Homo sapiens: one gene and its partner. The protein of the gene in region 2 purifies or fractionates together with the protein of the main gene of each other region. This does not show direct contact. Each region holds a gene or a part of one and is shown on either strand. Other genes may lie near its edges.

Region 1 (8,543 bases), on a different chromosome or scaffold from region 2:
CCAGAGGGCAGAGGCTGCCAGTGAGCCAAGATTGTGCCACTGCACTCCAGCCTGGGCAACAGAGCAAGACTCTGTCTCAAAAAGAAAAGAAATGTGGGACTCTTTTTTTTTTTTTTAAGTTACAGCCCCAGTTTCCCTTTTCTGAATACTGTTTTAAAAAATTTTTTATTCAGATATTTTTTGTTTGTGATTCTGTGTATGTCTATTTTCATTTCATAGCTGGAGTTTTAATATCAGGTAGAAGACAGGGGCCTGGATGTCAGCAGAGACATCCGGGTACTTATCTTTTACTTCTTATCCCACCATGCCCTTCCCAACTCAAAGCTGAGCAGTTTGATGGCAGTCCCCACAGCTTGCAGAACTTGGTGCCCAGGCGGTTTTGCTGGAGGAAATACCTCCTAACCCATAGCAGATAGTGATCTTAGCCGCAGCAGAGAAGTGGTTGCGCTGGGTTGGGCAGTGGGTGGAGAAGGATGGCATAGAACGGATGCATTCTGTTCTCAAAATGATACTTGTTTTGATGGTGACAATTTACCAGTGAAACACACTGATTTCATATTCTCTGGGGTACTCTCCACCTCAGTGGGAGGGAGAGGATTGTTGGGGAATCTCTAGGGGACACTTCTTATTAGTATACCTGCTTTTTTTTTCATTTTTTAAATTTTTTTGAGACAGGATCTCAGCTCTGTTGCTCAGGCTGGAGAGAAGTGGCACAATTATGGCTCACTGCAGCCTCAACCTCCCTGGCTCAAGCCATTCATCCCCCTACATCCATCAAGCCTGGGACTACAGGCAGGTGTCACCACACATGGCTATTTTTTTTTTTAATTTTTTTGTGGAGACAGGATCTCCCTATGTTGCCCAGCCTGGTTTTGAACTCCTGGGCTCAGGTGATTCTCCTGCCTTGGCCTCCCAAAGTGCTAGGATTACAGGCATGAGCCACCATGCTTGACCACACCTGCTTTTTTGACTCGAAGGCATGAATGTTGGGAAGCACTCAGTTTTCTATGGACAAAACTTGTGTATTTGATTATTGGGAAGGGAGCTTCCTCTTATTTTGCCAAACATCCTTGAACACAAAAAATTTACTTCTTTGCTGTCCCTTGAGTCAACCACAAGCCCCAGTATTAGCTTATTTCCCTTCTAAGACTTACCTGTCTTCCCTTCCCAGGTCAGAATCGTTTCCCTGGCTGTCGCTGTAAGACCCAGTGCAATACCAAGCAATGTCCTTGCTATCTGGCAGTGCGAGAATGTGACCCTGACCTGTGTCTCACCTGTGGGGCCTCAGAGCACTGGGACTGCAAGGTGGTTTCCTGTAAAAACTGCAGCATCCAGCGTGGACTTAAGAAGGTGAGGCCTTTCCTCAGGACCCCACACCACATAAAATGGAGGGGGAAGGAAGGAACGGTCCCAAGCATTCTCTTTCCACTGGTTCTTTTGAGGCTTTATATGTGAAAGTGCTTGATAAATCCTAAAAGACACATATTTACTGAATTAATAAAGGCTTCAGTCCCAGTAGGGCTTAGAAAAATGGTTCCTGGCCAGGTGTGGTGGCTCATGCCTGTAATCCCAGCAGTTTGGGAGGCCGAGGCCAGCGGATCATGAGGTCAAGAGTTCGAGACCAGCCTGGGCAACATGGTGAAACCCTGTCTCTACTAAAAATATAAAAATTAGCCAGGCATGGTGGTGCATGCCTGTAATCCCAGCTACTCAGAAGGCTGAGGTAGGAGAATCGCTTGAACCTGGGAGGTGGAGGTTGCAGCAAGCCGAGATCGCACCACTGCACTCCAGCCTGGGACAGAGTGAGATTCCATCTCCAAAAAGAGAAAGAAAAGTGGTTCCTTGAACTGGCCAGACAAAAAGGAGCTGCGAGGTGTATGCACCTTTGGTGATGTCTATGTTTACCTCACACATTGCAGTGAATTCCTATAGACTAAGGCCCAGGAGGGCTCCATGGATAAAGGAAGAGATATCCTATTTCCGTTCGTCACCACCTCCCATTTTCTTTTCTCTCCCAAGCAGAAAAGAATGGGTTAGACCTTTTTCTGCTTTCAGATCCTCTTAACAGTTGCTGGTTCTTTCCACCCCACCCCCACCACACATGTGCACATCCAGCACACACCCCCTACTCATGCACACCCTGTAGTCTGAGACTTGGCCCCCTCTTCCCCAGCACCTGCTGCTGGCCCCCTCTGATGTGGCCGGATGGGGCACCTTCATAAAGGAGTCTGTGCAGAAGAACGAATTCATTTCTGAATACTGTGGTGAGGTGAGTGCTATAGTTTTGGCCCACATTCTTACTCGGGGGAGACTGATGAGAAACTCTGATTTTCTGTGGGCCAGGCTTCTTTGAATTAATCTCTAAATAACTCAGCTGTGTTCTCACGTGGCCTCTTGGGGAGATCCCACAGAACCGTTTGCAGTACTGAAACCACTGTTCAACTCTTTGGCAACTCCAGACACAAGAGATGAGGGGGGCTCTTTTCAGCCTTAAAACTGGTTGGCCTGGGTGGGAATTGGAACAGCATAACTTGAACTTGCTCTCTTGTGATTCTCATCATGATGCTCAGTAAGCACCCATGTGAGATACCACCCAGCCCTTTCTGGGGGCAGGGTACCATGCCCTGAGCAGGCAGCCTGATACTCCTATTTGTTATTTGTCTATCTCTCTAGCTCATCTCTCAGGATGAGGCTGATCGACGCGGAAAGGTCTATGACAAATACATGTCCAGCTTCCTCTTCAACCTCAATAATGGTATGAAGTCACTTTGTCTCATCCCAAGGTGGTCTTTTTTTTTTTTCTTTTTTTGAGACGGAGTCTTGCTCTGTTGCCCAGGCTAGGGTGCAATGGTGCGATCTTGGCTCACTGTAGCCTCTACCCTCTGCCTCCCGGGTTCAAGTGATTCTCCTGCCTCAGCCTCCCGAGTAGCTGGGACTACAAGCACCTGCCACCATGCCCGGCTAATATTTTTGTATTTTTAGTAGAGACTGGGTTTCACCATGTTGGCCAGGCTGGTATCGAACTCCTGGCCTCAAGTGATCCACCCGCCTCGGCCTCCCAAAGTGCTAGGATTACAGGAGTAAGCCACCGCACTTGGCCCCAAGGTGATCTTTCTACCAGATTGCCCTTGCTGTAGTCCAAGTTTAGATCAGCTCCGAATCTTCCAGCAGATGCATAGAGCAAGGGGGCAGGATCACACTTGGGGATCCCACAGGCCACAGTGCCCTTGCTTTGGAAGAACCTCCATTTCTGGGTTCTGTTTGTAATAGGAGTGCTGAGCGTCTTTACCTGAGAAATCTCCCTGCCCAGTAGATGAGAAGATCCATAATTCAAAGAGGGACCCAAAGGGAGTGCTCCCACACAAGGCTGAATTCTGAGGCTGCATGCTTTCCTCTGCTCCTGTTAGCACACTGGGCTTCAACATTCCCATCAGACTAAAGTGTTTCTGTTACCATTTAACTGATTTTAAATTCAAGCTGAGAAGCTGTGGAATTGCCTGCTGTGCTTATGGTTTTCCTTGATTTACTTTATACAGATTTTGTAGTGGATGCTACTCGGAAAGGAAACAAAATTCGATTTGCAAATCATTCAGTGAATCCCAACTGTTATGCCAAAGGTGAGTCCCAGTAACCTGGGAGGTGGGGTGGGGGATGGATGCCTCTTTACTGTGATTTCCATTCGTTGTTGAACATTTTCCTTAGCTGAGCTATTTTTTGTCCAAAGATAATCATGATTAATATCTGGTATCATTTTAGGCCCCTCTCAATCTTAGTTTTCTAATCTGCTTTTTTCAGCGAATACATTATAAACACTTTCCCACAAACATGATTTAACCAGCCTGAGCAACATAGTGAGACCCATCTCACAAAATAATAATAGGCTGGGTGTGGTGGCTTACGCCTGTAATCCCAGCACTTTGGGAGGCTGAGGCAGGTGGATCACTTGAGGCCAGGAGTTCAAGACCAGCCTAGCAAACATGGTGAAACCCCATCTCTACTAAAAATACAAAAATCAGCTGGGGGGCGTGGTGGTGTGCACCTGTAGTCCCAGCTACTCAGGTGGCTGAGGCACAAGAATCGCTTGAACCCTGGAGGCAGAGGTTGCAATGAGCCAAGATCATGCCACTGCACTCCAGCCTGGGCAACAGAGCAAGACTCTGTCTCAAAAAACAAAACAAAACAAAACAAAAAACCCCACTTATAATAATAATAAAGATAATTTTTCTGCCATAATAACAGATCTAAAAGCATAGAGGCAACTACCATATTGACTACTTTCTAATTCCATTTGATTCATGTTTTCACTGGGAATTTGGAGAAAATCAACCCAGAAGCCTACTGGTTATTGACTTGGAGTTGGGTAGGAACCTAGCCTCGGGTTTATCCTGCTTGCAGTGGTCATGGTGAATGGAGACCATCGGATTGGGATCTTTGCCAAGAGGGCAATTCAAGCTGGCGAAGAGCTCTTCTTTGATTACAGGTGAGGTGCCAGTAATGGTCCTTGGGATGTGGCCCAGGAATTGGAAAGAGTGGCTGTTGGAATAGATTTGGGGGCTCAGGGAGGGTAATGGAGATGGAGGAGAGAGTCTCCCGGTGAATAAGGCTGTGTCCCTTGTTCTGATATCTGGTGCCTTGCCTCAGAAGTGGGACCATTGTAAACAGCCCTTAAGGAGTGGGAGGGGAAGTGAAACGGGAGGGGACTCCGCCTTTTCAATCACAAAAGTCATGAGAGTAACCTGGTTCCTCTTCCCTGCTCTGGGACAGGTACAGCCAAGCTGATGCTCTCAAGTACGTGGGGATCGAGAGGGAGACCGACGTCCTTTAGCCCTCCCAGGCCCCACGGCAGCACTTATGGTAGCGGCACTGTCTTGGCTTTCGTGCTCACACCACTGCTGCTCGAGTCTCCTGCACTGTGTCTCCCACACTGAGAAACCCCCCAACCCACTCCCTCTGTAGTGAGGCCTCTGCCATGTCCAGAGGGCACAAAACTGTCTCAATGAGAGGGGAGACAGAGGCAGCTAGGGCTTGGTCTCCCAGGACAGAGAGTTACAGAAATGGGAGACTGTTTCTCTGGCCTCAGAAGAAGCGAGCACAGGCTGGGGTGGATGACTTATGCGTGATTTCGTGTCGGCTCCCCAGGCTGTGGCCTCAGGAATCAACTTAGGCAGTTCCCAACAAGCGCTAGCCTGTAATTGTAGCTTTCCACATCAAGAGTCCTTATGTTATTGGGATGCAGGCAAACCTCTGTGGTCCTAAGACCTGGAGAGGACAGGCTAAGTGAAGTGTGGTCCCTGGAGCCTACAAGTGGTCTGGGTTAGAGGCGAGCCTGGCAGGCAGCACAGACTGAACTCAGAGGTAGACAGGTCACCTTACTACCTCCTCCCTCGTGGCAGGGCTCAAACTGAAAGAGTGTGGGTTCTAAGTACAGGCATTCAAGGCTGGGGGAAGGAAAGCTACGCCATCCTTCCTTAGCCAGAGAGGGAGAACCAGCCAGATGATAGTAGTTAAACTGCTAAGCTTGGGCCCAGGAGGCTTTGAGAAAGCCTTCTCTGTGTACTCTGGAGATAGATGGAGAAGTGTTTTCAGATTCCTGGGAACAGACACCAGTGCTCCAGCTCCTCCAAAGTTCTGGCTTAGCAGCTGCAGGCAAGCATTATGCTGCTATTGAAGAAGCATTAGGGGTATGCCTGGCAGGTGTGAGCATCCTGGCTCGCTGGATTTGTGGGTGTTTTCAGGCCTTCCATTCCCCATAGAGGCAAGGCCCAATGGCCAGTGTTGCTTATCGCTTCAGGGTAGGTGGGCACAGGCTTGGACTAGAGAGGAGAAAGATTGGTGTAATCTGCTTTCCTGTCTGTAGTGCCTGCTGTTTGGAAAGGGTGAGTTAGAATATGTTCCAAGGTTGGTGAGGGGCTAAATTGCACGCGTTTAGGCTGGCACCCCGTGTGCAGGGCACACTGGCAGAGGGTATCTGAAGTGGGAGAAGAAGCAGGTAGACCACCTGTCCCAGGCTGTGGTGCCACCCTCTCTGGCATTCATGCAGAGCAAAGCACTTTAACCATTTCTTTTAAAAGGTCTATAGATTGGGGTAGAGTTTGGCCTAAGGTCTCTAGGGTCCCTGCCTAAATCCCACTCCTGAGGGAGGGGGAAGAAGAGAGGGTGGGAGATTCTCCTCCAGTCCTGTCTCATCTCCTGGGAGAGGCAGACGAGTGAGTTTCACACAGAAGAATTTCATGTGAATGGGGCCAGCAAGAGCTGCCCTGTGTCCATGGTGGGTGTGCCGGGCTGGCTGGGAACAAGGAGCAGTATGTTGAGTAGAAAGGGTGTGGGCGGGTATAGATTGGCCTGGGAGTGTTACAGTAGGGAGCAGGCTTCTCCCTTCTTTCTGGGACTCAGAGCCCCGCTTCTTCCCACTCCACTTGTTGTCCCATGAAGGAAGAAGTGGGGTTCCTCCTGACCCAGCTGCCTCTTACGGTTTGGTATGGGACATGCACACACACTCACATGCTCTCACTCACCACACTGGAGGGCACACACGTACCCCGCACCCAGCAACTCCTGACAGAAAGCTCCTCCCACCCAAATGGGCCAGGCCCCAGCATGATCCTGAAATCTGCATCCGCCGTGGTTTGTATTCATTGTGCATATCAGGGATACCCTCAAGCTGGACTGTGGGTTCCAAATTACTCATAGAGGAGAAAACCAGAGAAAGATGAAGAGGAGGAGTTAGGTCTATTTGAAATGCCAGGGGCTCGCTGTGAGGAATAGGTGAAAAAAAACTTTTCACCAGCCTTTGAGAGACTAGACTGACCCCACCCTTCCTTCAGTGAGCAGAATCACTGTGGTCAGTCTCCTGTCCCAGCTTCAGTTCATGAATACTCCTGTTCCTCCAGTTTCCCATCCTTTGTCCCTGCTGTCCCCCACTTTTAAAGATGGGTCTCAACCCCTCCCCACCACGTCATGATGGATGGGGCAAGGTGGTGGGGACTAGGGGAGCCTGGTATACATGCGGCTTCATTGCCAATAAATTTCATGCACTTTAAAGTCCTGTGGCTTGTGACCTCTTAATAAAGTGTTAGAATCCATTTTGGCAAGTTGTGTACTGTGTGCTTTGGGGCTGGAAGGATCCAGGGATGGGGTCCAGGAGCAGGTTGGGCCGAAGCATCAGCATTCTGATCCCCACTTACCCACTGAGATCTGGGAAAGGGGGAGATGGGGGTTCTGGCAAGAGCCAGTCAGTCAAGTCCCTGGAAGGTGATGCAAGGATTCTGAGAGCTCCTTCTAGAAATTCCTGAGCCCTCAGATTAGTTCCCTTAAAATCATCCCACTTATCCCCTAACCACGACGCCAGCTACCACACACAGACTGGGGCTCTGCCACTCTGCTTTATTGGAACGGCTCCGCGTCTGAGAGCACAGCAGGCTCAACCCTGCTTCAGAGTGGAGGCCGGACCAGGCTGGTGGGTGACCAGCAGGACTCACGACACTTCCAACACAGGAAAGGCAAACTACAGACTGTGGGCACAGCACAGCACAGGACAGCACAGCCAATTGAGCTTTTCTTTTATATATAAACAAATAATTTAAAAATTCGAATAATATATAGAGTTTCTCTAGAGAGACACTTTGCAACAAAAAATATATATAAAGAATATGACCTCCTGGGTAAATGAAGCAGCATCTCTGAGCGGAGGAAAGAGGGTTCCTCATGCACTGGAGGGGGCGAAGCCTTTGGGCAGGCACAAAGGCCATTGCATATCTTGGAAAAGGTTGGAGGAGTAGAGGGCTGGCTAGTCAGGGTATCTGCATTATTTTCTCTACGTTGCAGGTTTTTTATGGCTTTGGCTAAAGCAAGTGAAGCAGCGGAGGTACTAAGGTGCTAAACTGAGGCCTCTTGGTCTCTGTGTACAAAACAAAAGGAGGGGGGCAGGGGACAGCCATCAAGCCCTCTTGAGCCTCCAGCTGAGTGGAAGCAAATGGAAGATCTTCAGGGCAGGGGGGAGGCTGGGGGATAGGGTTTAGCAGCCTCCTCCCCCCATACCCTCTGCAGCCCTGCACTCCCACACATCTGTCCCTGCTGATAGTGTCTATTGGAAGGGAGGCAGTTAATCTCCCCTACACTCTGTTGTTAATCCCTGACAGCAGCTGGAACAGAGATGGCAGAAAGGACCTATGTCAACCCCATGAGGCTTCTCCTTTGGGGCAGATAAACAGCCAGGAGCCTGGGGAAACAGGGATGAGAAGGGCATTGGTTTAGGCAGTGAGGCTCGGCCACTCCCTTGGGTCCCATCTGTAGCTCTGCCCACCAAACTTGATGGGGGGGGGATGGGGGAATATCCTCTGGATGAGCAGAGCCAGCTAAGAGGAGCCAAATGTCCCTGATAGGATGGGGGAGAGGCAGGACTGGGGGAATGTCAGGAGCTGGAATTGGTCCCAGAAGCCCTTCTGACTCATTCAGACCTGGACTCCTCCAGGATCTGGGGTAGGTTCTGATCCCGGGGGCCAGGGGCTGGGGCTGGAGTTGGGGCTGGGGCTGGGGCTGAGGCT
Region 2 (5,588 bases):
ATAAAAGGATTTCTTTTTCTCTTTTTCTAGAACAATGCCGCAGAAGAGGTTGAAGAGGTAAAAAATAAATAAATACATAAAAAGCAAACAAGCGGGGACACCTGCAGTCTTAGTCACTGACAATGGGTTTAGGGAAAGTTGCACATTAGAGTCAACCCCTTCTTTTTTTTTTTTTTTTTTTTAAATCCAGTATTTAGGATAATATTTATGCTTAGTGTAAACATTCTGTGAATGAAGTAGACTCTTCGGTGGAATATATTAATATATTACTGTATATCCACATTTTCATGGAATGGTACTGTGGGAGACTGAGCAAACACTCTTTTGGCAACTTAGTAGAACAGCTTCTTAAAGGCTTTGCATGCTTGCTGCTTTAAGCTGCTTTTTTTTTTCTTTTCTTCCCTTTAGTGATTTCAGTAGTTTATATTGGAAAGAAAAACAATTACAACATGTGCCCTTACAAATACCAAAAGCACTGTAAGGATATTTGTCTTGACAGTGTTTATTGATTTGAAGTCATATTAGGAAATATTTAGACAATGAAAATTATCAAGAGATAATTTACCTTTCAATTATGATAAATAGATGTGATTGGTTGCCATTTGTGTTCTTTTGCAGAACTCTGATAAGAAAAGTGTTCAATTTGTATTTAAGCAAACAGTGAACGACGTTTGCAATCAACTAAAAATTCGTCTATCGAATTAGGGCTGAAAATTACTGTTAAAGAGTGTTGCAGTATGTCTGGTGGCTCCCTTTTCAGGACTAGGGCTTTCTCATGGAGTACAGTATGTTAATATTTACCTATATAACTAATCTGTTAACGGTTTTTGAAAAACCTTTCAAATTATTTGAATAATCTTCATATTTTCATTTAACCTATATGACTCTAATTTTTTTTCTGAGGAAATCATTTGGTTTTTGAGTTGTTTTTTCTTAATGTAAGAAAAATTGTATTTTTTTTACAAGTATCTTCAAACTGAATCTTTTATGCACCAAAGTTGGTCTTGAAAAGGAAAATAAAATCACTTTCTTGCTTGGTAAGCAAGAAGCCATATCGATTTTTTTTAACTTACAGAAATGGAAATATGTGTAACTTGTTAGTATTGTATTAAACAAATGTTGCATAGAGATAATAGAACATTGCTTGTAAATAATTCAGCAGATTTGTAATATATTTTTATATTTTGAAATGTACTGTAGATGTTTTCTAGAGGCATGAAAGTTAAATGTATATATTATGGTAGAAATAATATTGAAGGATATTGTACTTCACTAGTGCTGCCAGAGGAATTGTTAATAAAAGCACCTTCTTTAACAATAAATGTCTTTCACAGACTTAAGGGACTATGTACTACTGTTAATATCTCTAAGAACAAAACACATTGAACATCCTTCCAGAAAGTCTTTGAGGGAGGACCTATACCCATAATAGAATTATGGCACTCATTTCTGACAGTGATCAAGAAATCAGTTATTTCCTTACTGTTGGAAGGACATTGTAAAGTATGTGGTTATATGCAGTGAAACTGCAGAAAATACTCCTGGTTGAGGAGTTTTCACTTTACTACAGTGATATAAAAACCAGCAGTTTTTACACTAAATTTTTTAAAGAAATATTAGACAAAAATATAGAATTAAAACCTTTGGTTCCAAAATGGGAAAGGTTCCACGATACATAAATCATTTCTCATTTGCTTTAAAAAATTTAAAAGTGTAAAAATTATGAGAGACTTTATTCGTTAACAATGGGGGTAAAGAGCTATATACATGAAAATGAGTCTTATAAAATTAAGTGAAGTGCAAATAAAAGCACTGCTACTATAAGACATTCTGGAATGGTTGTTTAATAAGGGTATTATCCATTTGATCTATAGCAATGTGATTTTATTTTTAAAAAGAAAAGCAGTGTGTTTTCTTTTTTTGTTGTTTTCTTTTGCTTAAGCACTTCATCAATTGCTTTATTCTGTATCTGCGAAGTAATCTGCAATCTCTTTTGTTCTTTTTAAAATTTGATTTGTTATAAAATTGCCAAATAGAAGTGTTTCAGATACATAGTTTGTACCTGTATTTTTATTTTATTGCCTCATGTTCTTGTAAGTCATTCTTAATTGACCAATGATTGTAGACCTTGCTTGAGTATTTTTTCTAATAAAACAAAGCAAATCACATTTAGCTTCAAATTGTAACAATTCAATTGAATTTTAAAATGACACCTGAAAAGATACATCTGATATTTTCTATATAGAGCACAGTAAATAAGTTTTTTCATTGTGTAGAAATACTTAGATGTCAAAACCAGATTTCGTGATCCTTGATTAACTTCTGAGTACTCAATCAATCATAATCCTTTTGCTGCTTATCTGATGTTGGTTTGATACTGTTAACACACCAAAAAGAATATGGAATTGAAATGAGCTAGCTTTATAACTTGTATGTATACATATATACACATAACATCCAATTATGACTGGGTAATAAGTGTGAAAATTTTAATTTGTGGTTTTCATTTATTAATGTCTGCCCATCTGTATTGTTGCTCCTACCTTCAAATATGACACCTGAAATAATAAGTCTGTTGTCCAGAATTTATGTATTGTTCAGCATCAAGCAAACTACAGCTCACAAGCATACCCATTTATATGTTGTCTATGCCTGCTTTCTCCTGCAGTGGCAGAATTGAGTGGTGAGACCTTAGGTCCTGCAAGCCCCCAATTTTTACTACAGGTTGGCAATCCCTAATCCAAAAATCTGACATAAAAAATGCTCCAAAGTTCAAAACTTTCTGAGTGCTGACATCATGCTGCAAGTGGAAAATTCCACGCCTGACCTCATGTGACTGGTCATAGTCAAAACAATTAAGACTTTGTTTCATGCACAAAATTATTAAAACTGTTGTATAAAATTACCTTCAGTCTATGTGTATAAGGTGTTTGTGAGATATAAATGAACTTTATGTTTAGTCTTGGATCGCATTTCTGAGTCTCATTATGTATATGCAGATACTCAAAAATCTGAAAAAAATCAAAAATCTGAAATACTTCTGGTCCCAAGCATTTCGGATAAGGGATACTCAGCCTGTCTCTGGTCCTTTAAGAAAAAGTTTTCGATTCCTTTGTCTAGTTGACAAAAAGTTTGGAAACATAAACTTAGACCACACAACTTGCATTTTAATATGACAATGTTGATCTTGGTAATAAGCCAGTACATTAAATTTTAGTGAAAGCTGTTTCATGTATTTTACAGTAAATACTGCCATATTAGGTACCTACAACAAATGGTGGTTTTTGGAAACTTTTACGGTGGGTTTTTAAAGTTATTAATAGTCCATCATTTCATCATTTGTGTTTCTGTATTTATTTTGCTAAGAACTAAATAAGATTTTGTACATCAGATTGTGTTTGAACCGTAAGGCACATCTGCTTTATCTAAAAGAATCTTAAGGTGGAAATAGTGTAAAATTTAAAATTTTTTATATTTCTAATAAACTTTTTATATATAAATGTTACCTAAAGTGGACACATGTTACTTCTGAATTTCACATGAAAGGAAATTAAAGATGGACAATAATTATCTCTCAATATTTTAAGATTTGTTTTACTAATTGAAAACAGTATGTCAGTAAATCTTTGGCCTTAGTGCTTTTTTCCCCCTTTTACACATTAATAAAATGTTTTAAATATGGTAATACTCTTAAAACGGTAGAATTTGCCACAGTTGTTTAAAGCATTTTTATTTTTTCTTTGAATTCTTAATTCATGGTGAACAGATGTTGGGTTCTTAAAATATAAAAATGAGAAAATATGTATTAAAAATACTTGATAGAGGGTTTTCTCTTTAATCACAACTTAAAAAAAGAAACCTTTAATACCTCTGCATAAGTTCTCTGAAAGAACTTAAATTCTTAGTTTATATGAAAACTGATATGTATGTCTGTGTAACAAAGCCTGTTGGGTACAGGTCTACAAGGAGATACTTTGTTTCTAAAAAAGGAGTTAAATCGTGTCACCTGAATTTTTTTTTTTTGAGATAAGTGGACATTTTGGGGATTTTGGTTAAAACATATTTCTCTATTCTAAAAATTACAGAATATGTATTCATAAAAGGGAAGAAATTGTTAGAAAATTTCCTGTGTACGTAGTTTGTTTTTAAATTAAAGAATCTTGTGACCTGGTGTAGGACATTTTGCATTTGTAACACTGCAGTTTTAATATATTTGCTGTTTTTTTTAAAATTAGAATATGTTTAAAATTTAATGGTTATGAGGCTCTGTAGCCTTAAAATGTTTTATAGTAGTAAAATGTATTATTTTCATCTTAAAAAAAACTAAATATTTACATTGCATAATTTATTTATTGAATCAAGTTTACGTGGTCTAACACATGGTTCTGTTAATCTGAAAATTGAAAAGGATTTGTAAGCAGGTTAGAGCAGGAATTGCAACCCAGATTTTTTTTTTTCTAGGTCAGAATTCTTTTCACTATACCAAACTGCTGCTCACAGTGTGAGAACATGAATGTACATTGTGATACCACTATAAAGTTGTGTCCAGTGTTTCTGCCACAGCCAGTCTAGCATGATCATTCATGGCACAAAATAGTCTGTAAAATTTGTTAAATGAGTATTATAGGTGAGTAATTTTTACAGTAAAATACTTTGGAGAATTAACAGTGATAAAACAGTAGTAGGGTTGAAGTGACCTGGCTTAAGCCACATTCTGTGATAGTGTCAGGTACCTTTTCATAAGAACCTTATATACGGATATAGTGGTTCATGCTTGTAATCCCAACTACTTGGGAGGGTAAGAAGGGAGGATTGCTTGAGGCCAAGAGTTCCAGGCTACAGTGAGCTATGATTGGACCACTGCATTCCAGTCTGGGTGACACAGCGAGACCCCACCTCTTTATTTTTCGCTACGGAGTCTTGCTCTCTTGCTGAGGCTGAAGTGCAGTGGTGTGATCTCAGCTCACTGCACCCTCTGCTTCCGGCTTCAAGTGGTTCTTGTGGCTCAGCCTCCCACGTAGCTGGGACTACAGGTGCGTGCCACCATGCCCAGCTAATTTTTGTATTTTTTAGTAGGGACGGGGTTTTGCCATGTTGGCCAGCCTGGGCTTGAAATCCTTACCGCAGGTGATTCTCCCACCTCTGCCTCCCAAAGTGCTGGCATTACAGGCATGAGCCACTGTGCCTGGCCCCCGCCTCTTTAAACAACAACAAAAGTTCTAATAAAAGGAACTGTGCTTCAGTTTGTTTAGACATTCTTAGTGTAAAGGGTTATTGATGTTATGTTTTTACATATTGGATGTAATATTTTGGCTTACTTGATTTTATTTAAAAATGTTCCTTTTTGTCCTGTTTTATGATGTAAATAACTTTTTTTTTTTTTTTTTTTTTTGAGACAGATTCTTACTCTGTCGCCCAGGCTGTAGTGCAGTGGCGGGATTGTAGCTCGCTGCAGCTTCAAAACGCCTTGGGCTCAAGTGACCCTGTCGCGTTGGCCTCCCGAGTAGCTAGGCCTCCAGGCATGCACCACCACGCTGGCTTTTTTAATATATTGCCCAGGCTGGTCTTCAACTCATGGTATTACAGGT

What was found.
Region 1: the proteins of AEBP2 (region 2) and EZH1 purify together in Homo sapiens (affinity purification with mass spectrometry; 3 studies listed by BioGRID and IntAct, with this or other methods). This does not show direct contact.

The regions. Positions count from the first base shown.
Region 1 is NC_000017.11:42,698,814-42,707,356, reverse strand, and holds the end of EZH1 (histone-lysine N-methyltransferase EZH1), read left to right. Parts: intron 1-1,171; coding exon 1,172-1,350; intron 1,351-2,173; coding exon 2,174-2,269; intron 2,270-2,673; coding exon 2,674-2,755; intron 2,756-3,536; coding exon 3,537-3,617; intron 3,618-4,395; coding exon 4,396-4,480; intron 4,481-4,764; coding exon 4,765-4,825; 3' UTR 4,826-7,082; downstream 7,083-8,543. Other genes in the region: CNTNAP1 (contactin-associated protein 1 precursor), read right to left, coding at 8,447-8,543.
Region 2 is NC_000012.12:19,518,057-19,523,644, forward strand, and holds the end of AEBP2 (zinc finger protein AEBP2), read left to right. Parts: intron 1-30; coding exon 31-61; 3' UTR 62-618; coding exon of another isoform or gene 619-664; 3' UTR 665-4,171; downstream 4,172-5,588. UniProt on the Homo sapiens protein: Acts as an accessory subunit for the core Polycomb repressive complex 2 (PRC2), which mediates histone H3K27 (H3K27me3) trimethylation on chromatin leading to transcriptional repression of the affected target gene.